Linked DNA regions of Homo sapiens. The protein of the gene in region 4 interacts with the protein of the main gene of each other region in a pairwise test. Each region holds a gene or a part of one and is shown on either strand. Other genes may lie near its edges. The genes, in order: AATK, SLC12A2, WNK4 and STK39.

Region 1 (7,024 bases), on a different chromosome or scaffold from region 4:
TTTGGAAGCCGGGCTCAGCTCAATACTCCGAAGTTGGGAGGGATGCTGTACTGTCAGTTCCCCTCTGGGATGAGGGGCTCCATGGACCAGCAGCTGCAGAACGGGGTTTCCCCATGGTTCCCAGGACAGAAGCAGCACCAGAGGGGCCTGGCAGTGGGTTTGGCAAGGGGACGGATTCGAGGCAGCAGGTGGCACACGGGAGCCCTGCTGCCTGGCAGAGGCAGCACCACCTTCTCAGGGACAGTGAGGTCCCCGCACCTCAGAGGCTGGAAGGGCCTTGAGCCCCCGCTGTCCAGAGCCTGGTGTGTGGCCAGCAGATAGCAGCCAGCAACATGGTCTCCCGTGTTTGACAGAGTCCATGTTCCCTTCCCAGCCCCAGAGGGGCAAGGTGGGGTGACTGGGATCTGGGAGGGAGATGGGGGTCCCCCTGTAGCCCCTGAGACCCTGACCTCTCAGGGGTATCTGAACCCCAGAATTGGGAACTGGGCAGGCTCTGGTCACTCTGCCAACCCTATGTCCCCCTGGCGAAGCCAGGGTGGTGTCCAGTGGCTGGCTGCAGGACTGCAGGCTCTGGCCACCTCCTCGCCACACTGTGAGGTGTGGGGTCTGGGGTGAGAGGTCAGGGTGCTGAGGCCCAGCCTGGAATGCAGCAAGTCCAGGTGGGGCTGTGGAGCCCAGAGCAGGGGCAGGGGCCTGGCCGGCCCTCAGCCATGGCCACTCTCACCACACTGCTCTCCCGCAGACGGCGCCCCGCTCAGCGAGCTGTCCTGGCCATCCTCCCTCGCCGTGGTGGCTGTGTCTTTCTCCGGGCTCTTCGCCGTCATCGTCCTCATGCTGGCCTGCCTGTGCTGTAAGAAGGGCGGTATCGGGTTCAAGGTGAGGCCTGGGGGCCGCGGGAGCTGTCGTGGGATCCCGCAGGCAAGGCCTGTAGCGTCCACTTGACCCTGAGCTTCCCTCCTTCCTGGGGCCATCAAGGTGGCTGCTGGGTGGCCGTAGTTGCTGTGGGGCCACCTGGGGACCACGTGGACCCTGGCCCAGGGACTCCATAGCTCCTCCTCAGGGACCTGCCCCAGCTTCCTCGACTTTGAGGCCCTCTGTGGGGGGCGTGGTCTGACGCTCCCACTCCAGCCTGGGGTTGGGCCCGAGCACTCACGGAGGCTGAGGACAGCCTTGCAGGGGGCGTCGGGGGCTCTGGAGCTGGTGTGGGAGGGGGCTTGCCTCCCTAGAGGCCCGACTCCTGGTGGAGGAGCTGCCTCTGCAAGGGGCTCTCACGTCCCTCCGAATTCAATCTGCAAAGGGGAGTCCGGGCTGCCCAGACAAGCTTCCCGGCACAGGGACCTTCTTGCCAGTTGGAGTCACCTTGCGCGGGGTATCTTCTGCCTTCTGGAGGGGACGATGTGTGATGCTAGAGCCCAGCCTGCTGGTTAGGGAGCCCCGCCAAGGGTGAGGCCTGGCCTCACTAGGCTGCCCCTCTGGAGGCCAAGGCCCCTGGCCAAGGACAGGTGCCAAGCACTGCTCCTCCCCCTGCAAACCCCCAGCCCACCTCCAGCTGTAACTCTGAGCAGCAGGGAGGGCCAGGCAGAAGGAACCCCGGCCAGCATCGCCTCCCCCTCCCAGAGTCTCCATGGGTCCCATTCCTGCTGATGAGCAAATGACACCCTGGCCTGGACCTCTGGTGGTTCACACGCCCACGGGGGTCAGCCCCACCCCTGGGCCAGAGGTCAGATTCCTACGCCAGGAGAAGTCAGGGAGGGAGGAGGGTGGGAGGAGGCATTCTGCAGCGCGCACAGCACCCTGTCTGTATCTCAGGGTGCCTTCCTACTAAGTGACCCATGACTCAGCTGGCGCCACCCCCATTTGGGAGACAGTCCCAGAGTCCTCCCTGCCCCTGGTATGTCATGACGCAGAATGGGCCAAGGAGCTGGCTCTGCCCACCTGTCCCGCTGGCCTGGCAGGTGACGGTGCTGGATGTGGCCTTTTTGCCTTTTCTAAAGGCCACATTTTCCAGCCCATTCAACCTTCCAGAGCCCTCTGAAGTGGCCACAGGCCCCATCAACCAGTGAGGAGCTGCGTGCCTGGGGGGCAAAGCTGTGGCCCCAGGCTGTGGGGTCTGCACTCCTGCCCAGAGCCCCCACCCTGCTCTGGGATGTACCCCTGACCCGCTGGCACCAGGGGCCAGGCCAGGCCGCGCAGGCGCCTTCCTGGGGATCCCGAGGCCAGAGCCTCAAGGTCTTGGCGGGAGCAGGAGTGGAGGTGGGGCCTGGGTGGGACGAGTGGGGCTATTGTATAAGTGGCCCCTCCTTGGGGCACTGTAAGAACAAGGCCCCAAACAAGGGCTGGCCATAGCTCCTCCTCCTGCGCCCTCCTCACCTCCTTGGGAACATGGTGCCCGGAACATTCCAGCACCAGTGTGCCCCTGGGAAGTCCTGCCTCCACACTGGGCTCCCTCCTGGGATTTGGGGACCTGCGCTGGGCTCCCTGGTGGGGAGCTGTGCTGAGGGAAGGGGCTGGGCAGGCCCCCAATGCTGACCCTGTGCTACCTGATTGCACGCTGTATCGGCAGGACCCGGCTGGCCCCCGGGCAGCAGGTAATGCCTGGAGCCCGGGCCCGACCCCAGGGAGAGACAGCATCTGTGTCCTGGGCCCCTCTACAAAGCCCAGATGGGTGGGGCCAGGCCGGGGCTGGGATTGGAGGGCCCAAGAGGGGGCTTCTGGGGTGGTCTTCTGGGTCCCGGGGAGGGGAAGTTGCCCACGCAGCACCTGCGTCCCCCATCCCTGAGTGGCTGTGTGCTCCGAAAGGGCAGGCTGGGCCTGGCCTGCGGGAATACCGACAGAGCCACCTGCCCCTCTCTTTGCAGCCCAGGGAAGGGAGGCGTCCCCAGGGTCACACGTCGTACTTGAGGAGCCCAGGCCTCCCCTCCCACTGCACCTGCCTGTCCTCGGACTCACCAGCCCGGGTGCTGGCCAGCATCCAGCTGGAAGTCCCTTGACTCCTCTGAGCCTCAGCTTCCCCACCAGGGCACTGGGGGTTGTGAGGAAGGACAGAAAGGCTGTACCAAGTGCTCAGGGATTGGGGCTGTCATTGTGTGCCTGGAGCAATTGCTTTCAGCTGGGCCCAGGACTTTGGAGACTTTGGCTCTCAGCGCAGGAATGTGCCCTGGACTTGGGGGTGGGGTATCCCCTATACAGGTGCAGCCTCTACATTTCAAAATAGCAGCCTGGCAGGGAGTGGCCCAGCCCTAGGCTGCACGGGGCCAGGCTCTTAAGGAGTTCTGGGAGCTCCGGAGGTGGTGTGGCCACCAGGTGAAGGTCCAAGGCTGCTGGGGCAGATGGCGGTGGCAGGTGGGCTGCCCAGGGTAAAGGTGGCCGGTTGGCTCTGGGCTCCCAGACATCCAGGAATGCTCCTTGTCCCGGCAGGGGTGGGGGCACTTAATTGCTTCTCCCACAGGACTGTGGGGCAGGGGGTGATGGAATTCCTGTCCCCGAAGCTGCGCCATGGGAGGGTGGGACCCCAGGCACAGCCCGGGGTGAGGGGCTGCTCGGGATGTGGGTGGCTGAGAGGTGCTGGGGGCTGATTCTGGATGGGCAGGGCCAGCTGGCCTGAGTGCCCTCACCTCTGTCCCTTGGTTCCCTGCCTCTAGACCCTCAGGCCCCAAGGTGGGGCTCAGCCTGGGCTGCCCGCCAGGGAGGGATGGGGGAACTGAGGCCAGGCTGAGGCGCTGGTGCCTACAGCTCATCGCGCCCTTTCTGGAGTCTGAGATGGGTCCTCTTGGCTCTGGGATCTGCCTCTGGCCCCTCATGGAACAACTGAGCCTCTGGTCGGGGGCGTGGGGGTCAGCAAGAGGAGACAGATGGAAGGGCAGTTAGCAGGGGTGCTGGGCCATTGGCCTGCAGGGGCGGTGGCTCCAACTCTGGGCCGAGCACCCCCTCCTGCCCTGCCCTGGGAGCTCGGCCCTGGAAGAAAGGGGCCTTTCCAGGCCCAGCCACACCCTTCCTTGACCTGCGAGAAGCCCCGCTCATGCCCGGCCCGGCCCGCAGGAGTTTGAGAATGCGGAGGGGGACGAGTACGCAGCCGACCTGGCGCAGGGCTCCCCGGCCACGGCAGCACAGAACGGGCCCGACGTGTACGTCCTGCCACTCACGGAGGTCTCCTTGCCCATGGCCAAGCAGCCTGGGCGCTCAGGTGAGGGCTGGGTGGGGAGATGGGGTGGCCTCCCTCCGGGGCCCAGGTGCTGGGCGTTGGGTGTGATCTGGGGAGACCGGAAGACTCAGCTCTGGAGTGGGGGCAGCACAGGGCTGGGAGTGGCCTGTGGGGTAGACGCAGTGTGCAGCCCTGGACTCCCTGTGGCTGCGTCACAGGCCGCACTGTGGGGCCAAAGGTGCATGTACCTCTTTCTCCTGGGCCTGGGGGCCGGCCAGGGGTTGGCAGGGTCCAGGACAGCCCTCGGCCTCCAGCCTCCCCTGCCCAAGGGGCTGCTATGCACAGGGACAGGGGTGGGCACGGGGCAGGGGTGGGCACTGGGGCAGGGGTGCGGGCTCTCTGGTCCTGGACATGGCCATGTGCTGGGGGCAGGGGCTCTTCTGCAGTCCAGGGATGCTTGACCCCAGATTCCTGCCCCCTTGAGCGCCAGCCCTTCAGGGACACGGGTTCCATTGTGCATGGCAGGAGGAGGGGCGCTGGTGGGGCCCGTGTGGGCGGGTGGTGAATTAGCCTTTCACTCAGGCTGCGAGGAGGGGCCGAGGGGTGGGGCTGACCCAGGAGTGCAGGTGCAGGCAGGGCCTCAGCCACAGCCTCATCTGCCCCCATCCTAGGGTCCTAGGCCGACCACTCACATGGGGCGGACGTGCTGGGGAGTTTGGGGGTGAATGGCCAGGCTTCAGGACCTCCCAGTTCTGTCTTGGAGCCTAGGTGGTGGGTGCGGGTCCCTCCAGAGCTATCAGATCTCAAGCCCCCTCCCAGGAAGCTTCCAGCCTGAGGCTTCCCCCATCACTGCCCACCCCCAGCTCCTCTGGGAACACAGAGGCAGGAGGGGTATCAGGCCAGTGGGAGGGGCCCCTGCCAGCCCTGTTGGGGCTCTGTTGGCACCAGGGCCTGTTACTGCGGTGCCATGCAGGCCACCTCACCTGCTCTGAGCCGTGCCTGGCTGGACCCTGAGAGCTGGCTATGAACTGTGCCTGGCTGGGCCCTGAGAGCCTAGCCTTCATCGTGGGCTGAGAGGCCCAAGGCACTGGTCTGGGACCTAGAGAGGGCCCCCAGCCCCCAGCTTTGGAGCCAAGGCCTCAACGCCTGTCCTACTCTGCCCCATCTCCTGGAGGACAGGTTCCCAGTTCGGCAGGAATCAGGGCTGGCACTTGAGCTCGAGTACATCTGTGGGCGGGCGCGGAGGACTGCAGCCACCCACTCAGAGCGTGAGGCCCTCGGACCTTCCCGGATGGCTGTGGGGGTCCCTGAGCCCTGTGCTGACCCTGCTGGGAGCTGCCAGGGACCATCCGAGGGGGTACTGCCCTTGGGTCCAGGGGCAGGTGTGTGCCTGGCCCCCGAAGATTCTCAGAGCCACCTCTGGAGGATTGCTGTGGGGACTGGGGTTGGCGAACAGGAGCCCGAAAGAAGGCACTGGTTACCTGTCTCTCTACTTTTGCAGCTCTGGTTTCAGTTTTCTGGGGGAGGAATGTGCTTCTAGGGAGGAGAGAGATTGGGGTGAGGTCAGAAAAGTAGCCCCAGAGGTCAGCGGGGAGAAACCTGGGCAATGGCCCCACCCGCTGGGGACCGCAGAGAAGGACGGCTGCCTGCTGCCTCCGGCAGTGCCCAGGGCCTCTGAACTGTCTCAGCACCCATGGTCAGGACCCCCACACTTGCTCAGGGACAGTGTGGGCCTGGGCGCCCCAGGGTGAGAGAGGGCCGCCCAGACAGGCTGGGCTCAGGACACAGCACCCGGTGGGCCCACACGCTCAATTCTGCCCTGCCCCGCCTCTACATTCTCTGGGTCTCCAGGCCCTGGAAGGAGCCCCCTCCCCCTGGGCTCTCCTGGCAGCCAGGCTCAGACCCAGGCCTGTCAGCCCTCTGGGCAGTTGACGTGGGAGCAGAATTCGGGGAATCCCTCGGGGCGTGGGCAGGCATGAGTGGGCTCTGCCAGCGCTGGCCCCTTCGTCCCGGGCCTCACTGACCCTTCCTCCCGCTGACCTCACCCGGCCTGGCCCTCGGGGAGAATGGGCCAGTGTGCTCCGTGCGGGGCCGTGCCAAGCAGCCCCCAACAAAGGAGCCTTTGGTGCGCCCGGCGTGGGATGCCAGCCTGCGGCAGGGTGGGGGTGGGCCGCTCCAGTGCCCTCTCTGTGCCGTGGCCCCAGCCTCTTGCTCAGCCACACTGCCTGCCTGGTGCAGCCCATGTGACGGGTCGAGCTCCGGGCCCTGCTGTCCCTGGCCGGGCTATCCCAGTGGCTTCAGGCACCTTCTCCAGACCTACCCAGAAAGATGCCCGGATGGATCCTGCAGCTCCGTGGCTTTTCTGGGAAGCAGCGGCCCCTGCTCTCAAGAGACCCTGGCTCCTGATGGTGGCCCCAAGGTTGCCAGCTGGTGCTAGGGACTCAGGACAGTTTCCCAGAAAAGGCCAAGCGGGCAGCCCCTCCAGGGGCCGGGTGAGGAAGCTGGGGGGTGCGGAGGCCACACTGGGTCCCTGAACCCCCTGCTTGGTTACAGTGCAGCTCCTCAAGTCCACAGACGTGGGCCGGCACAGCCTCCTGTACCTGAAGGAAATCGGCCGTGGCTGGTTCGGGAAGGTACGTGTCCCGCCTGGGAGGGAGGACTCCCGCCTGGGAGGCAGAAGGGACACAGGGCTGCAGACCTGCTCCTCCTAGGAGCCACCCCAGCCCCGACGGTCCCTTCTTCAGTCTCTGGGCCCTGCTGGACCCTTCCCCAGGGAGGTCCTCAGCATCTGGCTGCATCCCCTTCTCCCTAGGGGGTCCTGGGGTCAGAGGTACCTGGGGAGGGGCCCTGGGAGGGAGAGGAGCAGCCTCTTGCTCATGGCCT
Region 2 (7,024 bases), on a different chromosome or scaffold from region 4:
AATATGACTATACATCACTGTCGAAAGAGGGGCAGACAGGAGGGGTTATAACAGGTTGGCTGGATCCCCAGAAGTTGTCCCTTACTCTGTCTAAATTGACTTCTACCTCTCTAACACCTTCTGTAATGTTTCTAGCCTTCAGTGAATTATAATATTTAGAATTTTTATAACACCTAATTCTAGCAGTCGATTGATTGGCATATACTCTACTTTGGTCTACTAAGTGCATAATTATCTACCATGGGACTAACTCTGTGTTGGGAACTACAGAAGAAGAAAAGAAGTAAAATACTTCAGAAACTTGTTAGGGAAAAGGACTGGATTGTCTTCCCTCCAGTTGAATTCCTTTCATTATCCATCACTGACTTTTTAAAAGTATTTTGTCTAGATGTCCAACTGTAGGGGAAAAGATAAATATCCTTGGTGCATCTTGCTATATTATATAGCCATTCTAGGACCAGTAGGCATGAGTTCTCCATTTATGAGTTATTGGGGAAGGGGGTATCTTAGATGTTGACAACATGCTTGTGACATTGTGGGATTATGTGGTGATTAGCAAACCAGTTACTGCTTCTGCCTAGACAGACATTAACAAAGTAGTTGGACAAATAACATAGTTAATAACTGTTTTTTAAGTGTTACGAAAGAAAAGGATACTTGTAAAGATAGAATAGGACCTAATTTTAATTGGGTTTTGGGAAGGCGTTTTTTTGAGAAGTATGACATTGAAGCTGAGACCTGAAGGGTAAGTTGATGATTGGGTGGAATGACAGTCCTGACCAAAGGGACAGCGCACATGAAGGTAATGGGGTGAGAAAGAGTGGTATATTAACATAACTAAAAGGAGATAACTATTTTTCATTATAAATGTAGTGGGACGCTATTGAAGAATTTTGTGTGGGGTAGCCACATGACCCATTTTGTTTTAACATCTTTAGGCTCTGGGTGGAGAATGGATTGGCAGGGGCAAGAATGGAAGCAAAGAGACTCAAGTGATTACTGTGGTCTGGTTGAGAGATAGTAAAGGTTGGTGGCACAAAGGATTGGATGTGGGAGTGAGAAAGAAGCTGACTTGTAGATTTTGAACTTGAGAAACTTAATAGATGTTGGTACTGTTGCTTGAGATGAGAAATACTGGAGGAGGAATAGATTTGGTGGTTGGGAGAAGTTTGTATTTGAGGCTATTCTGTTTCAGTAGCCTATAAAGACAAAGACAACTTATTCCAAGAGTCGTGGAGGAGGCTCTGTGTGTGTGTGTGTGTGTGTGTGTGTGTGTGTCTGTATATAAACATATGTAAATATATATATTTACATATAAAGATTTGGTTGCTTAAGGTCATGGACTAAATTACTTAGGGAGAGTGGTAGATAAGAGAACAGAAAATAGGGTCTGGCATTGGACTTGGAGATTGTTTAAAGGTCTGTTAGAGATTGAGGAGCCATTAGCAAAGGAAATTAAGGAAGAGCTGCCATACTGTCAAATAGCCTGGAGAGCAGTGTTGGGGGAAGCTGAGAGAAAAGAGTTTTTGGAAAGGCAGAAACTCTTCAAAGCTGATGCTAGGAATTGATTTAAAAATGTATATACGTACACACACAGAGTGAAAAATCAAAGTATGGATTTTTGGCCCTACAAGAAGAAATAAAAGGTGGAGGGTAACAAAGTATTTGATGGACATCTTCAACATGTATGATGGAATGCTAGATTATCAAATGTGGAAAGTGGAGTGGTAGACAATCCATACTAGCTCCTACTGGATTTAAAGCATTATTAAAGTAGTTTTTTGTTTTTGTTTGTTTGTTTTTTGTGTGTGTGTTTTACTATTTTGTGTTTTACTATTTTGACTGCTAAACCATAATTTCTAATATTTTTGTTTTTAAAGGTAGCATTACCATTGCAGTTGTCCTTGGGCCAAGGCTTAGGAGCCTTTTGCTGGTGGTATGTCAAGGGTTTCTATATGATTCCTGTATTTTTGCCTTTCTCATTAACAAGGGGAAAGGTCAAGGGAGCAACTATATTGTCTTTCATGTGTCACTTTGCTTGTTGGATTTTCATTAATTCCTAAGAAATAGGTCTTATACACATTTTACTCAAGATGAAATGAGCTAATAGAAACAGAAGAAATTGGCCAGGTGCGGTGGCTCACTCCTGTAATCCCAGCACTTTGGGAGGCCGAGGCGGGTGGATCACCTGAGGTCAGAAGTTCGAGACCAGCCTTAACAACATGGTGAAACCCTGTCTCTACTAAAAATACAAAATTAGCCAGGCGTGGTGGCGCATGCCTGTAATCCCAGCTATTTGGGTGGCTGAGGCAGGAGAATTGCTTGAACCCAGGAGGTGGAGATTGCAGTGAGCCAAGATTGCGCCATTGCACTCCAGCCTGGGCAACAAGAGCAAAACTTTGTCTCCAAAAAAAAAAAAAAAAAGAAAGAAACACAAGAAATTGCTTAATAGCCACTTTTACAAAAAGTGCAGCTGGAGGACAGGCACCATGGTAGGAGCCTGTTGTCCCAGCTGCTTGGGAGGCTGAGGCAGGAGGATTGCTTGAGCCCAGGAGTTTGAGACTGTAGTGCACTGTGATTATGCCTGTGAACAGCCACTGCGCTTCAGCATGGGCAAAACAGCAAGACCCTGTCTAAAAAAAAATAGTAGTACAGCTCAATTTGGACTTCACATCCAGGTTTTTCTGACTTTAATGCTAGGACATAGTAGCAGCAGGTTCTTCTCTCTTTATCTTTTCTATCCCTTAGACCTGTTCTAAGATAACAAAGATGTTGAGGGGGACCCCTTGGGGATTACCACCACCATTTCTCTACCTTGAACTCCTGAGAGTTGAATGATTATATAACTGACAGAAATCAAGAGATGTGATGATGTAAATATTATTATGACTTCTTCACTAGCATCTGTATAAGTGTTTATCTTCATACAGAGAATAGGCACTTAATAAAGATTTGTTCATGGAATGTACAAATCAGGTGAGCAGTTCCTGTCACTTAACAAGGACTTTAAGTAAAACACTAAATAATTACAGAATCTCCTCTAACCATGAGCTGCTTCTCTGAGTGGGCTGTGTTGATGCCTAGTCAAGAAATTTCACACACTATTAATCATTTCAGTGTATAGCTTTAGTCCTTGAAAGTCACCCTGGGGGAACAAGAATGTGTCTCTCGAGGGTGAGGGGAAGAGTAGAGTAGTGTCCAGAACTGGGTAAAGGTGGGACCCTGATAAGAAATATTTACATGTGGCAAAGTCAAATTTGGCTGATTTCACAGTTTTGCCAGGGGCTTTGCCCTGCTAAACCCATGCTACTTGCCATTGAAGTCAGGCTTACCCATAATACTAAATGCATTCCCCCAGGTGTACACTGACTGAAGTAGTTCTACAATGCGGCAAACAGGTAAAATTGCAGCTACTGCTTTGTTAAATAGAAAACAGCTTTTAATTTTTAGCATAAAAATTTCCTGGGTAGAAGGAAAGAAATTTTGGGATTTAAAATGTAGCAAAAAATCAGTACACTGCTAAATTGATATCTTCTCTGTGTGTATTTATGTTCATACATTTTAAAATCCTGTGAGACTAGAATTTAAAGGACCAAAATAGAGTTTCTTGGTTCTTATGTGTGGAGTGTGTTTGCTTTCAATGATATTTCATTATATGTTACATATATATATTTGGGAAGTCTATAGTATAGTCCTATGCTGAAGTGAAATAAATGTGAACCTAGTTATTCAACAAATCCTTGTTGAACATCAACAACAACACTGTTCTAAATGCTGGGGATATAGCAGTAAACAAAACAAAGTCATGGGGCTTTCATTCTAGCGGTAGGAGACAATAAACAAACAAAATTAAAGCAGGGCGAGGAAAATTAAAGGTGGCTAGATGATGGCTGGGTGATGCTGTTTTAGCATTGTTAGGGAAGACCTCTGATATGTGAGCAGGCTCTAGAAAGGGGTGACCCCCATGCAGATACCAGGGAAAGAACACTCTAGGCAGAGGAACAACAGATACCAAGACCCTGAGATGGGAGTGTGCTTGGTGTGATGGAGAGACAGGGAGGTCAGCAAGACCGAATTGATGAGGCAGTGTGATAAAGTCAGGGGGTAGTGAGGACCAAATAGCGCAGAACCTTGCAGATCATGATAAAGACTTAGGATTTTACTCTGAGTGATTTAGGGGAAGGCATTGTAGGGTTTTGAGCACAGATTTGACATGATCTGACTTATGTTTTCAAAATACCACGCTGATTGTTGTGTAGAGAATATACTGTAAGGGGGCAAGAGTAGAAGGCAGGAAACCAGTTAGAAGCCTACTGCAATGGTTCCATTAAGATGATAATGACTTTTACTAAGGTAGTAGTGATTGATACAATGAGAGGTGTTCAGATGCTGGATGTGTTTCAGAGGTAGAATTGTTGGGATTTGCTGATGGTTTGGATGAGGGGATGTATGGACAGAGTAATACTAGGGTTTTCCCCCTATTTAGAATGGAGTTGATATTAATGGAGAAGTCTGTGAGAAGGGCAGGTTTGGGAGATGGACTCAAGATAGGGTTTCATTCTACAAATTAGTTCTCCAATGAGGCAAACAGGTAAAATTGCAGATACTGGTTTGTTAAATAGTAGAACTTAAGAAAACAGCTTTCATTTTTAGCGTAAAAATGTGCTTTTGCTCTTCAGGTAAAACCATGAAAACTAGTAGTCTTTCAAATACTGTACAAAGGGGTAGGGAACTAGTGGGTTGATTCCACAAAGTGAAAGCCCACTGAGGGTGAGCAACAAGGAAAATTACTTAAAATACTGAAGTTAAAAACATTAGTGGTGTCTCATTTAAACCATGAAAGCTACTATCAGCTGAGGCCCTCCTTTGTCTTTTTCCATTTTCACTAGGATCTCTACCAACACTAGCTTAAAGCTATTATGAAAAACTTGGAGCTGGTAGAGAACTTGGGGGTTTCTAATTGGAAGAAGGGGGAAAGCCAAAAAGAAAAAATAGCTTAGTGGAATGTTGACTCTCAGCAGAAGCTAATTATGGCTAGTACACTCATAGTATCATTGGACTCAGAAATTTCCCTGCCTTAATTTTTAAAAAAATTCTGTGCTTTTTCTGAATAGTCACAAATTAGATATTCATCTAGGTTCAGAATTCTGGAAACCTGTGGGATAGTTCTTTGTTGGGTAAGTGTGAATTAGTTCTTCCATCAGTTTAGTTTCAAACAGAATTTGGTATGGTATGCTAGCCATTTTGGAGACTTTTGCAAGGGAGCGTAGGTGGTTTGGCAGGGCAGGCTTGAGTATTCCAGTGGGGAAAGACTTAGAGGACCCTAATCATTAGAGACCTGCCCTTCCCACAGACTTCTCCATTAATATCAACTCCATTCTAAATAGGTATTACTCTGTCCATACATCCCCATCCAGACTATCAGCAAATCTGAACAATTATACGTTTGAAACACATCCAGTATCTCAATACCTCTCATTGTATCAGTCACAACCACTTTGGTAAAAGCCCATTATCATCTTAATGGAACCATTGCAGTAGCCAAGATGAGAGGAAGGGGGTGATTAAAACATTTAGCTGCAATTCAAGAATTGGGCTATAGGGCTGACGGTCTTGGAAAGAGGTAGGAAACTTCACAGAGCATGTCTGGACTGAGGACCCCAGTCCGAAGTTTGGACTAGCAGTTGTTGTGATTATGGCCTGTTACCATTTAAGGTCTTTATCAGTGCTGTCCGATAGAAATATAATATGAACTACATATGTCATTTAAAAAAGTAAAGAATCAGGCAAAATTAATTTATAATATACCGTATTTTATTTGACACTGTGTCTAAAACATTCATTGCAGATATAATGAATATTAAAACATTTATAATGAGATATCTCAATTTCTTTTTTTTGTACAAAGTTTGAAACCCCGTGTGTTTTTCACATACAGTACAGCACATCTCAATTCAGACAAACATTTCAATGGTGTTGAAGTAGTAGCTCCTTGTGACCTTTGATTACTATATTGGACAGTGTAGATGTAAACAGTACTTGGCAGTTTGGTTCTGAGGTCCTATGATTTTCATTTTTCTTCTTGGATATTTAACTGTTCCTGTCAATAGTTTACTTCTGTTAAAGAAATTTGAGTAGCTTCTATCTGACAGAAAAAGCGGAATATTTTATTTAACTCTCATTCCTTTCCAGGTACAAGCTCTTTCCTTCCTTCCTCAGCCAGACTTGTTGAGAGTATTGTTTATAATTGCCGTCTTTCCTTCCTTACCTTTTACTCAAACTGCTGTAGTGTGGCTTCTATTTTGCATAAATAGTTCTTGTTAAAGTCACAAGTGATCTCCATTCTTATCACAAATTTCAGGAAGTTTTTGTTTTGTTCTGTTTTGTTTTGTTTTGAGCAGTGTTCAGCTTTCAGGCAGCATTTGGTGTTCTTTTGAAGTGTTTTGGTCACTTCCTTGGCTTCTTAGTTTTCCTTCTGCCTTTCTGACTCTTTCAGCCTCGCATCCTTTGCAGTCGCCTCCTTCTCTAACCTGAACATCCTCAAGGCTTTATTTGGACTTTTCTCCTTCCTTGTTCCTCTTTTTTCTCTCCTTATGCTACATCATCTGTAGTCCAATGACTCCCGAAATTTCGTCTTCTACCCACACTCCTCTGAGTTCTGGGTATCCAATGCTTGCTTGACATTTTTGTTTTATGTCTCAAAGATAACTCAAGCTCACAAACTTAGTATTTCTTCCCATTCCCTCCAGAAACAAGAATCCAGGCCCTCTGCCAGTGTGTGCTATATCTCTCGGAATGGTACCACTATTCATCATACTGCAAAAGTGAGAAACCTATGAGTCATCCTTGACACTTTTCTCTCATTCCCCCATCCAATCACTGAGTTCTGTCAACTTGAATTTCTAAATATTCTTTTCATCTAAGCTGCTACCATCCTATTAGGTTGGTGTAAAAGTAATTGCATTTTTTGACATTGAAAGTAATGCCAAAAACCGCAATGACTTTTGCACCAACAAAGCTGCAG
Region 3 (7,024 bases), on a different chromosome or scaffold from region 4:
CCTACTCATCATTCAAGATGCAACACAAAAGTATTTCCTCTCCGAAGCTCTCCCTCATGCTTGGGGCAGTTAGTCATCCCTTCCTGCGCTCCCACAGCACCTTGGCCGAGGCCCTATCTATCAATTTACTTCCCAACCCGTTTGGTAACGTCATGTCTATCCACCATGCCCCCTGACTCAGTTTCTCCCTGGGGCCGGGCAGACATAGGCTAGGAGAATGCTGGCAGAAGATGCGGAGGCGGCAGCAGGGTGCGGCAGGGGGGAACTTCCCAGTGGGGGGCTCCTTCCCGGAGGACGTGTCCCCCCACCAGGACTCTGGCTATGCGCCCTCCCCCAGGTACCTGAGGCGGTTCCGGGAGATGAAGCCGCGGGTCCTTCAGCGCTGGAGCCGCCAAATCCTGCGGGGACTTCATTTCCTACACTCCCGGGTTCCTCCCATCCTGCACCGGGATCTCAAGTGCGACAATGTCTTTATCACGGGACCTACTGGCTCTGTCAAAATCGGGGACCTGGGCCTGGCCACGCTCAAGCGCGCCTCCTTTGCCAAGAGTGTCATCGGTGCGTCTCTCCAGGAGGGTCCATGCCATTCCTTCCTCCCCCACCTCAGAAGAGAACCTGGGGACTCCCTCCCCTCAGCAAGGGCCTTCAAGGTCCACAAAACTACCAGACGACAGGGAAGCTGAGGAGACCTATGGCACCCACCTCAACCCCACTGTGGGCCGGGGTCACTTGCACTCGCAGGGTTGCCTGGGGCTGCCTAGCCCAGTGGGAAGGACGAGGCCAGAGTGCCCAGCAATCTGATCCCTGCTGTGGACCCTACAGGGACCCCGGAATTCATGGCCCCCGAGATGTACGAGGAAAAGTACGATGAGGCCGTGGACGTGTACGCGTTCGGCATGTGCATGCTGGAGATGGCCACCTCTGAGTACCCGTACTCCGAGTGCCAGAATGCCGCGCAAATCTACCGCAAGGTCACTTCGGTGAGAGGGATGGGGCTGGCGGGAAAGGCAATTCCAGGGCCACTTCCCCTTTTCCTGCGCCGGCCAGCCCGCAGTCAATGCCCTTTGCCTGCACGAAAACAGGCTAGACACAGAGTCGCCTTGGTGAACACAGAAGGATATTGAGTGCACACGCGCCCCCACCAGTACACGCTATTTAGAATAATAATATGTGTGGTGCTCCCAAGAGTTCACAAATGATTTCGCATCCCATCTCTCATCCAATCCTTCCAGCTGCCCTGTGAGGTGAGCGGGGCAAATGTTCCACCCTGCGATTTACAGATGAACAAACAGCGGGAGACTTGTTCAAGATCACACTGTAAATACTTGGGGGGGGGGCGGGGATTAGGATTTGAAATCACATCTTCCAGTAGCAGTCAGGCTTTTGCAACTGCACGCGCAGCTGCCTAAGGAGGGAGTGGAGTAAGGGGTGGGGGGTGGTGTCAAGCCGAGAGCTGGGGATCAGAGGACGGGAGGTGTCATGCAACCCCTTCCCCAGGGCAGAAAGCCGAACAGCTTCCACAAGGTGAAGATACCCGAGGTGAAGGAGATCATTGAAGGCTGCATCCGCACGGATAAGAACGAGAGGTGGGGGTGAAAGGGCAGAGCGTGGGTAGAATAGGGCCGCGGGCCGCGGCGGGCTCGGCTCACCCACGCGTCACCCTCAGGTTCACCATCCAGGACCTCCTGGCCCACGCCTTCTTCCGCGAGGAGCGCGGTGTGCACGTGGAACTAGCGGAGGAGGACGACGGCGAGAAGCCGGGCCTCAAGCTCTGGCTGCGCATGGAGGACGCGCGGCGCGGGGGGCGCCCACGGGACAACCAGGCCATCGAGTTCCTGTTCCAGCTGGGCCGGGACGCGGCCGAGGAGGTGGCACAGGAGATGGTGAGCGGAGGACAGACTGTGCTGCCACTGGACGTGTAAAGGACATTGACTCGAGGGGACAGTGCAACAGGGATGGGGCGCAGGAGGGGTGGCAGCGATGGGGGCGGGGCACCTCACCCCTCTCAAAATCTCCTGCAGCGTCTCCCTACCTCTCCAGCCCTAACTTACCCGCACGCACACCCAGTTTTCCTTTACAGAGGGAGCCCTGGGTCCTCCAGCGTCCCTGCTTTACCTCCAGCTGATCTGTTCTTCCTGGGATGCCCTTCTTGCCAATTCATCTTTTCCTTCTTTCCTCCCTCCCCATTTTTCTTTTTCTTTTTCTTCCAATATGATCAGAACCATCGATTTCGGGAAGCCGTCCCCTTTGGAGTCAAACTTAAATGCTTCTTTCCACTTCAGCATGTTCTCGGTTACAGCACTCCCCACTATCGGTCCTGTCTTAAACCTGAATAAGTTCCTATCTTTCTTCTCCACTAGACTATAAACTCCCTGAGGGCAGAGACTGTGTTTTATCGATTCTTCTATCCCTGGCAGTGCTTGGCACATAGTAAGAGCTCATTAATAGCCTACATCTGTACATGGCTTAAAGCACTTTCACATGCATTTGATCTTTGCTACCCATCCTGCATAGGGGGCAGTTTTATCTCAACTTGTTGATGAGGAAATGGAAATTCAGAGAGGTTGAATACCTTGTCCAGGGCCCCAAGTAAGTAAGTGGAAGAGCTGGATTGAAACTGAGGTGGTTCAGATTTTAAATCAGGTTACCCTTCCCCACCTCCTTTACTCATTCAGCAAAGCTTGCGGCTAAAAGGAATGAGGAGGTGATGAATGGAAGCTGGTAGAAGGGGAGAGGCATAAGATGCAAGGGCAGAAGCTTGGGGGCTGGCTTAGGAAGTCCTGAAGGGAGTATGGGATTCTTTTTTTGGGAGTAATGGAGTCTCACTCTGTCACCCAGGCTGGAGTGCAGTGGCGCTATCTCAGCTCATTGCAACCTCCGCCTCCTGGGTTCAAGCAATTCTCCTGCCTCCGCCTCCTGTGTAGCTGGGATTACAGGCAAAAGCCACAACGCCCAGCTAATTTTTGTATTTTTAGTAGGAACGGGGTTTCACCATGTTGGCCAGGCTGGTCTCGAACTCCTGACCTCAAGTGACCCACTAGTCTTGGCCTCCCAAATTGCTGGGATTACAGGTGTGAGCCACCGTGCCTGGCCGAGTATGGGATTCTTAATAGAGACATGACAGTTGCAAGGGTGGAGACCACCTACGGTAGGTCAAGAATCTGAGAATGTGTTAGAAATTTAGAGCAGGTCTCCATAGCACGGCCCAACCTGACCTGAGATCAAATCTTGATCCATTGCTGACAAGGGATTCTTGGCCTTGGCACTGTTGACATGTTTGTTTTAGGGACTGTCCTGTGCATTGTAGGATGTTGAGAAGAACCCCTGGCTTCCGCTCACTAGATTCAGTAGCACCTACCCTCCAGTTGTGGCAACTAAAAATGTCTCTAGATAGTGCCAAACATCTCTTCTTCCCATTGGAAACCACTGACTTACTGTATAACTATGAACCAGCTACTTCATTAATCTCTAAAAATCGAATGGTAAGATTTATCCCACAAGGTTGTTTGGAGGATCTAGTGATGATAATGTAAGGAGCTGCCAGTTAACAGACATAGTGGGTAATCAGTAAGTGTTGGTTTTCTTCCTCCCATATCCTGGAGTTCCCAAGAAGGCGTCCTGATGGATCTTTGATAGGGGGTCCCAAGCTGTGTTCCTCATCCCCCACCCCAATTCCAGGTGGCTCTGGGCTTGGTCTGTGAAGCCGATTACCAGCCAGTGGCCCGTGCAGTACGTGAACGGGTTGCTGCCATCCAGCGAAAGCGTGAGAAGCTGCGTAAAGCAAGGGAATTGGAGGCACTCCCACCAGAGCCAGGACCTCCACCAGCAACTGTGCCCATGGCCCCCGGTCCCCCCAGTGTCTTCCCCCCTGAGCCTGAGGAGCCAGAGGCAGACCAGCACCAGCCCTTCCTTTTCCGCCACGCCAGCTACTCATCTACCACTTGTAAGTCACCCCTGATCTTGAGACGTAGGTCCCAGAACACCTTGGCCTCTGCCCCCTACCCAGAAGTTCACCCCCACAGCAGTCACTTACCCTGCCTTCCACCTCTAGCCATGAAGCTCCCTCCAGGAAGGAACTCTCCCACAGCTCCAGGCCCCTCCTTGCTTAGGCAGGCCCCATCCTCTGCCACTATTCCCTTTTATTTCCCCTTTTTTTGATCCTCTCCCTCCCCAACCAGCGGATTGCGAGACTGATGGCTACCTCAGCTCCTCCGGCTTCCTGGATGCCTCAGACCCTGCCCTTCAGCCCCCTGGGGGGGTGCCATCCAGCCTGGCTGAGTCCCATCTCTGCCTGCCCTCGGTGAGAGGGGGTCGCATGGGGGGCTCCCAGCCATTCCAAGCCTATGACCTATCTCCCTCCTTGTGAAACCCAATCTCATGATCCAGTCCCATGTCCCTGGAAATCCACCATTCTTGCCCTCCTCTTCCCTAATTCCATCTCCCTAATATCCTCCCAGCATCCTTGACACCATCTCCCTAGATCTCAACAGTTATCTTCCCCTGACCTCATGAACCCTTATCCTGTTTCAGGCTTTTGCCCTATCCATTCCACGTTCTGGCCCTGGAAGTGACTTTTCCCCCGGGGACAGGTATGTTCTGGTACAAGTTGGGGTGCCAGGGTGAGACACCTGGGGCACTGGGGTCCCAGTGTCTGCTCTGACAGTCATTCTCTCTCCTTTCTCTTTAACAGCTATGCCTCAGATGCAGCTTCAGGCCTTAGCGATGTGGGAGAAGGGATGGGACAAATGAGGAGACCCCCAGGGAGGAATCTCCGGCGCAGACCCCGATCCCGGCTGCGGGTCACTAGTGTAAGGATGGAGTACAGGAGATAGAGAGTAACCTACAGGGCCAGGAGGGAAGTGTCAGGGGGAGGCGGGGGAGGTCACCCAGAAAACGGGAGAAGCAGTGTATGACTAGTACTCAAGAGGCGGCCAGTCTGGTTTCTAATACCAGACTTTAGAGGTGGGGTCTACTTATCTCCAAGTCCATTGTGGCTGCTGTCACTTGGCTGGGGTAGGGTGGAGACACAGCATGATGAAGAGGGCTTGACCTTCTCCCCTCTGCTGACTTTGAATCTGAAGGTCTCAGACCAGAATGACAGAGTGGTTGAGTGCCAGCTACAGACCCATAACAGCAAGATGGTGACCTTCCGATTTGATCTGGATGGGGACAGCCCGGAAGAGATTGCAGCTGCCATGGTGAGGGGGAGAGAGATGAGGACAGAGTGTTTGGATCTGGAACAAGAGTCTCCTTCCTGATGTCCGCTGGGGCTGAAACCCACTGATCCGACAGCAAGCATTTTTAAATCTCTGGTTGACACTTAGCACAGTAACGCTGAAGATGTCTCAGCCCTTGTTTTGGGGGAGATTTCTGTTTATCCAGTGAGGTTTGGCTTCTCAGCTGGAGCAATTTGAGACTCACATTGACCGGGTACACACAAGTGCTACGTATAAGTGCCTGGTAGATGTGCAATACTGTGGCTGTAGGTGAAGGATGGACTGGGCAGCAGGGGCAATGAGCTTACCCAGGATCTTGGCAAATGGGCAAGAAAGGCTGTGAAGGGTGGAAAGGCCATGAAGGGTGTCCCTGTGCAGGGACAGCATAAGCAAAGGCATTCCAAGTAGAGAGTGTCTTGGAATATGGGGCTGGGAGGGCTTCATGAGGAAACCACTATCACTGGAAGTAAAGATTCCTATAGGAGAGTTGTGGGGAGTGAAGCCGGGTAGGTAGAGTGGGCCCAGATTGTAGAATAGACAATGTTAAGAGTTAGGCAGAGGCCAGGCGTGGTGGCTCACACCTGTAATCCCAGCACTTTGGGAGGCCGAGGCCGAGGCAGGCAGATCACCCGAGGTCAGGAGTTCAAGACCAGCTTGGCCAACATGGTGAAACCCCGTCTCTACTAAAAAATACAAAAATTAGCTGGGTGTGGTGGCGCATGCCTGTAGTCCCAGCTACTTGGGAGGCTGAGGCAGGAGAATTGCTTGAACCCGGGAGGCGGAGGTTGCAGTGAGCCGAGATCACACCATTGCACTCCAGCCTGGGCGACAAGAGTGAGATTCTGTCTAAAAATAAATAAATAAATAAATAAATAAATAAATAAATAAATAAATAGAGAGGCAGAGCAGGCTAGGTCCAGTGGCTCACACCTGTAATCCCAGCACTTTGGGTGGATGAAGTAGGAGGATTGCTTGAGCCCAGGGGTTCAAGACCACCCTGGTAATATAATGAGACCCTATCTCTACAAAAAATTTAAAAAATTAGCCGTGTGTGGCGGCACATGCCTGTCATCCCAACTACTTGGGAGGCTGAGGTGGGAGGATCACTTGAGCCTGGGAGGTCAAGGCTGCAGTGAGCTTTGATCACGCCACTGCACTCCAGCCTGGAAGACAGAGTGAACTTTGTCTCAAAAAAAAACAAAAACAAAAAAACAAAAAGGCACAGTGTAACGTGACAGTAGGCTTTATGAAAATCATCTGCCATGGGATGTGGAAGGGGGAAGGGAAAATACCTGGGAGGTAGACCCAGGAAGCCATCTGTGGACAAAGGAGAGAGTGGCTTATGGGAGGGAAGAGGAGAAAGGGTGAATCTGAGGGTTGTTTCGGGAAAATAAGTTACTCTGTAATCCAGTAACCTATTGACGTAGTAGAGAACATAGTACATAGTAGATGCTCAATAAATATTTGCTGAGTTGATATGATTGGGAGTTAGGGAGAAGGGATGTCAAGGACAACTTGTAGGCCACCAAAGGAGAGTAGGAGAGTAGGCCACCAAAGGAGAGAGGAAATTAGAAATGAAAGAAGGTTTTTTTTAAGGAGGTCATGATGAGCTTGAGTGAAGAAGGGACAGCCAAGACAAGACCCTCCATAGCCATGGATATGGGTCAGGCAGGGCTGGAGAGATGTGGATGGAGGAGTAGTCAGTACAGAGTTGAGAGTGAAGGGAGATGAGCCGGCAAAGCCAGAGACACAGAGGGTTGCAGAGTGTGTCTCAGCGCATACCACCAGTTCTGGAGTGGGAAGCGGGA
Region 4 (7,024 bases):
GTGGGTCTGTCATAGATAGCTCTTATTATTTTGAGATACGTCCCATCAATACCTAATTTATTGAGAGTTTTTAGCATGAAGGGTTGGAGCCTGGGATTCTAAGGACTTTGGGACCATAGGCAAGTTTCTTCAACTTTGGCCATTAGAGAGTTTTCAGTTACAAGACAAAGCAGCTGGGATGGATTTTTTTTCCTTTGGTCTCTTCTAAAATTAAATTTCCTAATTCTCTCTATATTCTTGTACCACTTCTCACTTAGGAACTCACTTATAAAAACCAGCCATGACCTGCCATTCCTTCCCCAGGAAACCCCGTCTGCTGCTCCTCTTCCTTTGCTTTCTTGAGTCACCCCATAATTAAACAAACAGAGATAGTGACATTGCCTGAGAGAAAGAAAGAGAACCAGATGATTCAAATTAAAATCTAAGCTACACAGGATAGGTCAATAGGCACCAACCTACCCAAAATGTAATCCTTTTTCAATCCCCAGACTAAACAGAGTAGGAAATAAAGCAGTTGGAATACCCTTAGTACAAACTCTGGTTCAAACTGATGCAACCAGTTCAAAACAAAATCATTACTTCTTCTAAGACCCCAACCATCCACAGAATGATTATGAGAAGTCTCACAACTGTCACAGGTCACTGGCTCCAAAATACTCCCTGAATGAAGATCTATCATTCACAGGGCAGAAAGTCATCCACCTCTACTTTCCATCTAGTTTTTTCTGACAAATAGCTCCAGTGGTAACTAAAAGTTAGAAACCTAAACCCATAAATGTCAATAAAATGTATATTTTTTACCTAAGGGAAGAATCACATGAGCACCCCCAATACTAGGCTTCTGAGAGTTATACTAAATGCCACTTACCTGGAAGAAGTTTGAAAATAAAGTCAGGGATAATATGAATGTAGAGGTCTCTACCATTTCTATCTTAAAATGTTTTCCCATATATCAAAATACACAATCAGTTTAAAAGGTCAATTAATCTCAATCCTCAATGTCCAAGAAGTTTCTTAAAGCTAAGCCAGAGTTTATTCTCAAATAACTGTTTGGCAAGTGAGAAGAAATGTGAAACATATCATTTACTCACATCGGATTCCAAAGTATTTATCTAAATCGACTCTAGAAATAAAGTATGCCAATCCATTCTCTAAAGGATTTTTCTCTTCTGCTTTTCAGTTAAGCCAAGTCTGAAATGACTTTTTAATTAATATATTGAATTCTTGTCTAGTATCAAAAACTTGGCCAATTGATGGCAGATAGGGAAAAAAGAAACACTTGAATCACTTCAACTAAGAGCTGTTTTGGTATAATCTAAACACAACTATCCTAGAGGAAAACGTATGACTTCACATGATTACATGGAGAATTTTATTTAAATAGGAAAAAAAAACTTTCCCAAAAAGTACACTGTAAAGGAATTATAACATCTATTAGAATGACCCGGTTCTATGGTCTTAGCAGGTACCACAGCCATCCTATCATGTCAGTCCCTTATAAGTTATAAAAATAGAACTCCTGCCATCCTAACAACCTTTGAAAGCCACTTGTTCTGCAATTCTGCTCCTGTGTTTCACCTGCATCCCTGATCGTCTCCAGCAGCCCTGATTCCTACACAGGAAGAGGCTCCACAGAACTTCAAGGTGAGTGTTATATATAAATACATGAACAGCAAGAGAGAGAGATCACTGATATACAAAAGAAAAGAAAGCTCTAGAGCTTTTGAAGGGCAGTGTGGGACTTCCCCACTCCACCCTACAATGTCTACGGATGCCAGAACTGTGGCAGGGAGCTCTGGGTCCTTTAATCCAGCCAGAAAGGCCACCTCTCAGTCCTAAGACCTCAGGAGAGCCAGGCCTCTGCCTGCCTACCTCCACAACACAGGCAGGTGGACGCACTCAAAGTGCTTACTCTTGATCTGTGAGGATTAATGAGCTAATTTCTACAGAGCCCTTTAAGCTGATTGGCCCAAACGCAACTAAATAAACCCCATCATTAACCACGGGCAAGATCAAATCCTCAGGATCCAGTGAGGCAAATTTTTAGACGTCAGGCAATGTTCCTCCTCCACAAGGTGAGGAAGGAGTATTTATCCCCAAAACTCAGAACTTCATCCAGAAAACATTTATTAAATATCTATTATGACATGCAGGGTAGGGAGATGAGAGACCCTGTCCTCAAGGAAGACTTAACAGTCTAGAGCCAGGCTGGCAAGGAAAATACAATTTGCAGATAGTGTGACAACTGCCAGGGAGCGAAAGACCCAACAGAGCCTGAAGGGCAAGGGGGGAGGGGGGCTCTAGAGGCAGAGATTGTTTGTGTGACAAGAAATCACTTGTTCAGGGTATGAGAAGAGAGGCCCAGTCAGGGTGCTGGTTACATGGTGTGTTCAATTCATGAACATGCACCAAGATATACATTTTTTATATGTACACTTTTCCACATGCATATTATACTTCAATAAGGGCAATATTTAAAAGAAAAGACAGAGCTCTTTGCTACATAGATGAAAAATGGAAGGGAAGGGTCTTGGAATGGTGTTCCAAGCAGAGGGAAATCTTGCCTAGAAGAGGCATTTCAGCAACTGCAAAAGGTTCCCACTGGCTGGAGAGTCTGTCCTGAGACTGGAAATTACAAGATGTGGCTGAAAAGGGAGGCAAGAGACAATTCCCAAAAGACCTTAAACACTGTGCTTCAAATTAAGTCTTGAGGGTGACGGGAGAGCTACTAAAGGCATTTCAGCCTGGGAGCAACGTGATCAAGAATTTTGGTATAGCAGTATCTTTCTGGTAGCAATGCACACTACAGCCAGAAACAAGAATGGAAAAAAGGAACCTGGTTAGGAAATTATTACAATAATCCAAATAAGAATCGATAAGGGCCTGAACTAAACCAGTGGTGGCTGACATGAAGAGTCAGAGTCAAATCAAAGAAGATCTCAAGGAGGTGGAGTATTTAGGACTTGGTGACCAAACAGATGTGAGAGATGGACAAAGACAGGAAAGTATAGGATGGCCAGCAGGTTTTGCCCTTGAGGGCTCTAAAGATGATGAATATAGAAGAAACAAGATTAGGACTGAGGCCAGGGTGGAGAGACAATGAGTTTAACTGTATGAAGTTCCTGTGAAACATTCAAACGAAGACATTAAAAAGGTAGTCCAAACACTGGTATACAGTCAGGAAGACCCTCAGCATTTGATGTGGTAATTGAAGCTTCAGACAGACAGAGATGTGGATCTGGGGCAGGCAAGGGAGTACAGGAAGTCCAGAAGGAAGGCATGGCATGGAAGCTCAAGCAAATGCCTTTCCAAAAGGAGAATGAAAGATGGCACCTAACCCTGCAGAGAGCAGAGAAAAGGACTGCAGTGTCCACTGGCTCTGGCCACAGAAGAGTCACAGTGATTTCAGAGAGTAACTTGGGTTTCTTAGGGAAAGGGCAGAAGCCAGACTGCAGTGGGCTGAGAGGGAATGGGAGGTTCCTTCCAACAATTTAGCAGTGAAAGGAAGAAACGAGATAACCGAGTAGCCAGAGGAGAAAGAAGTAGGGAGAGTGTTTTGTTTTGTTCTCTTTTGTCATTTAAACATAAGAGACAGGCTTGAGAATATTTATAAACTGAGGGAAAAGCAAAGAGGGAAAGAAGGAGACAGGGAAGCAATGGTGATGACTTTATCTGAAAATGAAGGCCTCTGTCCTCGCACTGGCTGGGACACACAGGGAGCGTTTCTTTTAGTCAGCAGCATTTCCTGCCAGCATGGCAGCCTCCGGGCAAACTCAGAGGTGGAGGAAAAGTGCAGTCCTAGCAGGTTGTTCTCGGAGCCCTCTCATAATGGGCTGCTCCTCTTCAGCAACCTTCCCGCAGGATGCTCTCATCACTTGTCAGAGGGCCATTTGGCACCTAAACCCCTGAGCTGTCCAAATTGCCAGGAGCTCCACAGGTCTCTTCAGTTTCCTCCCACAGCAGTGGAGGTGCAAGGGGAAGCCAGATCCCCAGGGGCCTCTCCCCTTGTAAGCCCCTTCCAGCAGCCCAGCACAAGAGTGGGAATAGGGAACAACCTCTCTTTCCCACTTCCTCCCTGCTAGAAACATAGCACAGAAATCTTCAAGCCACTCCAGAATCCTGCCAAAGATAGGACTGTGTTCTCTCCTGATAACTTGCATCTGATTAGCAAATGAAGTCTATAGAAGTTATGGCTAAGACTAATTGAAAGCATGCTGTGTGCCAGGCACGATTCTCAGTGCTTTACATTCTCTCATTCCTCACAACCCTATTTTTATCATCCCTATGTTACCAATGAGGAAACTGAGTGCAGACACATCTAAGTCATTTGCTCAAGGTCGCAGCGTCAGTGACCGCCATTGCAGGACATGAAACAGGCCAGGCTGTCAGACTCCAGAGCCGGCACTGCTGCAACTTATTTTCAAACACCATCACAAAATGTACTATACAATAAACCATAAAAGTCAGGGAAGAATTCATAATATCACTAGTTAAAAATCAAATGCATAAATAAAGGATTGCAGTCACTTTACCACAGTTTCAAGAGAGATCTTGAGATCTCTCCCCCCAGCCCCATGACAGCACATTTAAAAGAGTATTTATCTTGTAAATATAATTAATGCTACTGAATTGCACACTTTAAGAACGGTTAAAATGGTACAATTTTTGTTGTGTATATTTTACCACAATAAAAATAATACAAAAGAGGCCGGGCACAGTGACTCACGCTGTAATCCCAGCAACTTGGGAGGCTGAGGCAGGCGGGTTACTTCAGACCAGGAGTTTGTGACCAGCCTGGCCAACATGGTGAAACCCTGTTTCTATCAAAAAATACAAAAATTAGCCAGGCCTGTAATACTAGCTACTCGGGAGGCTGAGGCAGGAGAACTGCTTGGACCTAGGAGGCAGAGGCTGCAGTGAACTGAGATGGCGCCACTGCAATCTAGCCCAGGCAACAGAGCAAGACTCTTACAAAAAAAAAAAAAAATATATATATATATATATATATATATATATATATATAAAGAGGCCAGGCACAGTGGCTCACGCCTGTAATCCCAACACATTGGGAAGCCAAGGCCGGAGCATCGCTGAGCGGAGGAGTTCAAGAGCAGCTTGGGCAACATAGTGAGACCCCCATTTCTTAAAAATAAAAAAAGAAAAAAAAAATTAGGCAGGCATGATGGTTTGCACCTATAGACCCAGCTACTCAGGAGGCTGATGTGGGAAGATCACTTGAGCCCAAGAGTTCGAGGCTGCAGTGAGGTATGATTGCACCACTGCACTCTAGCCTGGGTGACAGAGTGAGACCCTTTATCAAAAAAAAAAAAATACAAAATACAAAAGAACATTTCTATATACATTTTTCTATTTATTAAAAAAGAAAGTGAAATGAAATGAAAATCAAAGCCCTGTCTTGAGACAAAGCATTTCAGACATCATTTAGTATTTTAAAAACAACAACAAACAAACTAATCAAGATCAAAGAACCCACTGCAGCAGCAAGGCAGCCTGGTATAAAGGTCTGGGAGATCAGAACACACTCAGTGCTCCGGCTCCCTTACCCTAGCGCCAGCGAAGGTACCACTGTCCTCAAACTGCCTCTAGGATATCTATAAAAACCAATTCTAACCCCCAAACCATAGAAATCCACAGAAACTCTGAGAGCACAGAGCAAAGTGGGAATGCCCAGGGCTATTTACAATCTCATTTTACAAGAGGCTGTTGCTCCTTAAAGACCTGGCCATATGTGCTATTACCTGGACCTGAGTAAAACGCACCTGAATGGATAAACAATGCCTCACAGGAGAGAAATAAAGCATTCAAAGGAACCCTCTGTCAAACCATGTCCAGGATTCTAGAACTCAAATTCTTCGTGTTGACTAAGATGGCAATTTGTTACTTTTAGGTCATTCTAAATGACCACCCGGGACAAAAGTGAAGCAATGCTGAGAAATCTAGTATAAAACTACATAAAGAAAGGTGCATCCTGCAAAAACCCTAAGAAAATCAAACAAACTCCTGCTGAGGCAGGAGTCTAGGGTTTCTCAGAAGAAATTCAGCAAAGATAACAACATTGCTGGAATCACCTAATTCAAATACAGAAATTAGTACTTCAATGACTACAATTCTTTGAATGAGAAGTTCATTGAGGCTGCTCCATTCCATTACGGATGGCCAAGTAAACACTTATATGATTCACTTTCATTCCCTGTTTAGCAAATCTAGGTAATATTATTAACACCCCCAACAAATAAACTAAGTTTTCAACTGGCATAGCTTTAAGTGCCCCTTATACTTCTAAAGGTAGGGGTACCTACTTTTGGGGGCTCAACTCACCCCCAAATTCCTTCTTTAGAGAGGTAAGGAACAAAGATTAACAAGGCTGAAGAGTATAAACAGGTCGGAAAGCCTCCAAAAAGACAGAAATATTTGAAATCTACTAAGACAAGGATATCAATGTCTGGAAGAAGGAATTTAATAATTTCCAACATTTTTAACCCCTCTGTAAATATAAAGCTCCCTCCCATCGATTTTACATCATTTCCAGGTCATGAATAAACTTATGAACCAGAATACTCCTAAGAGCATTACAATTTCTCCACTGACGTTTTAAAACACAAGAACAACAATACAATAAAGAGAAAACTTTATTTTTAGGTTTGCAAAATCCTGTGTTTATTTTTCTAAAACTGAAGTCAAACAACTGAACCTGCTTTGTTTGGATTTTAGTAAACTTATTCTCTCTTAATCCTGGGGGACCAAACTCTGCCCAGAAGGAAATGAAGAAAAAGTCCTCCGTGCCCGTGCCATGCTGGAAAGTTAAAACACGGTGCCTCCTTTGGTTTTCTGTTCAGGCACATCTGAGCCTCCTGCTGCTGGTCACGGTTCACACTGCTGGAGTCATATCATATGACACCTGCCGTATGGCGGGTAGAAGCAAAGGCTGTCAACTGGCATTCATGTTGAAACTGGTTCAGTGTTTGAACTGCTAACTTCTGCGTGTAATGTTTAAGCAAAAGTG

Evidence for each region.
Region 1: the proteins of STK39 (region 4) and AATK interact in a two-hybrid assay, tested with the Homo sapiens proteins (one study listed by BioGRID).
Region 2: the proteins of STK39 (region 4) and SLC12A2 interact in a two-hybrid assay, tested with the Homo sapiens proteins (one study listed by BioGRID).
Region 3: the proteins of STK39 (region 4) and WNK4 interact in a two-hybrid assay, tested with the Homo sapiens proteins (one study listed by BioGRID).

Annotation. Positions count from the first base shown.
Region 1 is NC_000017.11:81,128,220-81,135,243, reverse strand, and holds part of AATK (serine/threonine-protein kinase LMTK1), read left to right. Parts: exon of another isoform or gene 1-742; coding exon 743-876; intron 877-1,935; exon of another isoform or gene 1,936-2,048; intron 2,049-2,949; exon of another isoform or gene 2,950-3,199; intron 3,200-3,289; exon of another isoform or gene 3,290-3,342; intron 3,343-4,038; coding exon 4,039-4,183; intron 4,184-5,622; exon of another isoform or gene 5,623-6,086; intron 6,087-6,694; coding exon 6,695-6,774; intron 6,775-7,024. UniProt on the Homo sapiens protein: May be involved in neuronal differentiation.
Region 2 is NC_000005.10:128,086,763-128,093,786, forward strand, and holds part of SLC12A2 (solute carrier family 12 member 2), read left to right. Parts: intron 1-7,024. UniProt on the Homo sapiens protein: Cation-chloride cotransporter which mediates the electroneutral transport of chloride, potassium and/or sodium ions across the membrane. Plays a vital role in the regulation of ionic balance and cell volume.
Region 3 is NC_000017.11:42,783,600-42,790,623, forward strand, and holds part of WNK4 (serine/threonine-protein kinase WNK4), read left to right. Parts: intron 1-337; coding exon 338-558; intron 559-822; coding exon 823-980; intron 981-1,497; coding exon 1,498-1,586; intron 1,587-1,666; coding exon 1,667-1,883; intron 1,884-3,678; coding exon 3,679-3,943; intron 3,944-4,178; coding exon 4,179-4,300; intron 4,301-4,530; coding exon 4,531-4,589; intron 4,590-4,690; coding exon 4,691-4,808; intron 4,809-5,081; coding exon 5,082-5,198; intron 5,199-7,024. UniProt on the Homo sapiens protein: Serine/threonine-protein kinase component of the WNK4-SPAK/OSR1 kinase cascade, which acts as a key regulator of ion transport in the distal nephron and blood pressure.
Region 4 is NC_000002.12:168,237,575-168,244,598, forward strand, and holds part of STK39 (STE20/SPS1-related proline-alanine-rich protein kinase), read right to left. Parts: intron 1-7,024. UniProt on the Homo sapiens protein: Effector serine/threonine-protein kinase component of the WNK-SPAK/OSR1 kinase cascade, which is involved in various processes, such as ion transport, response to hypertonic stress and blood pressure.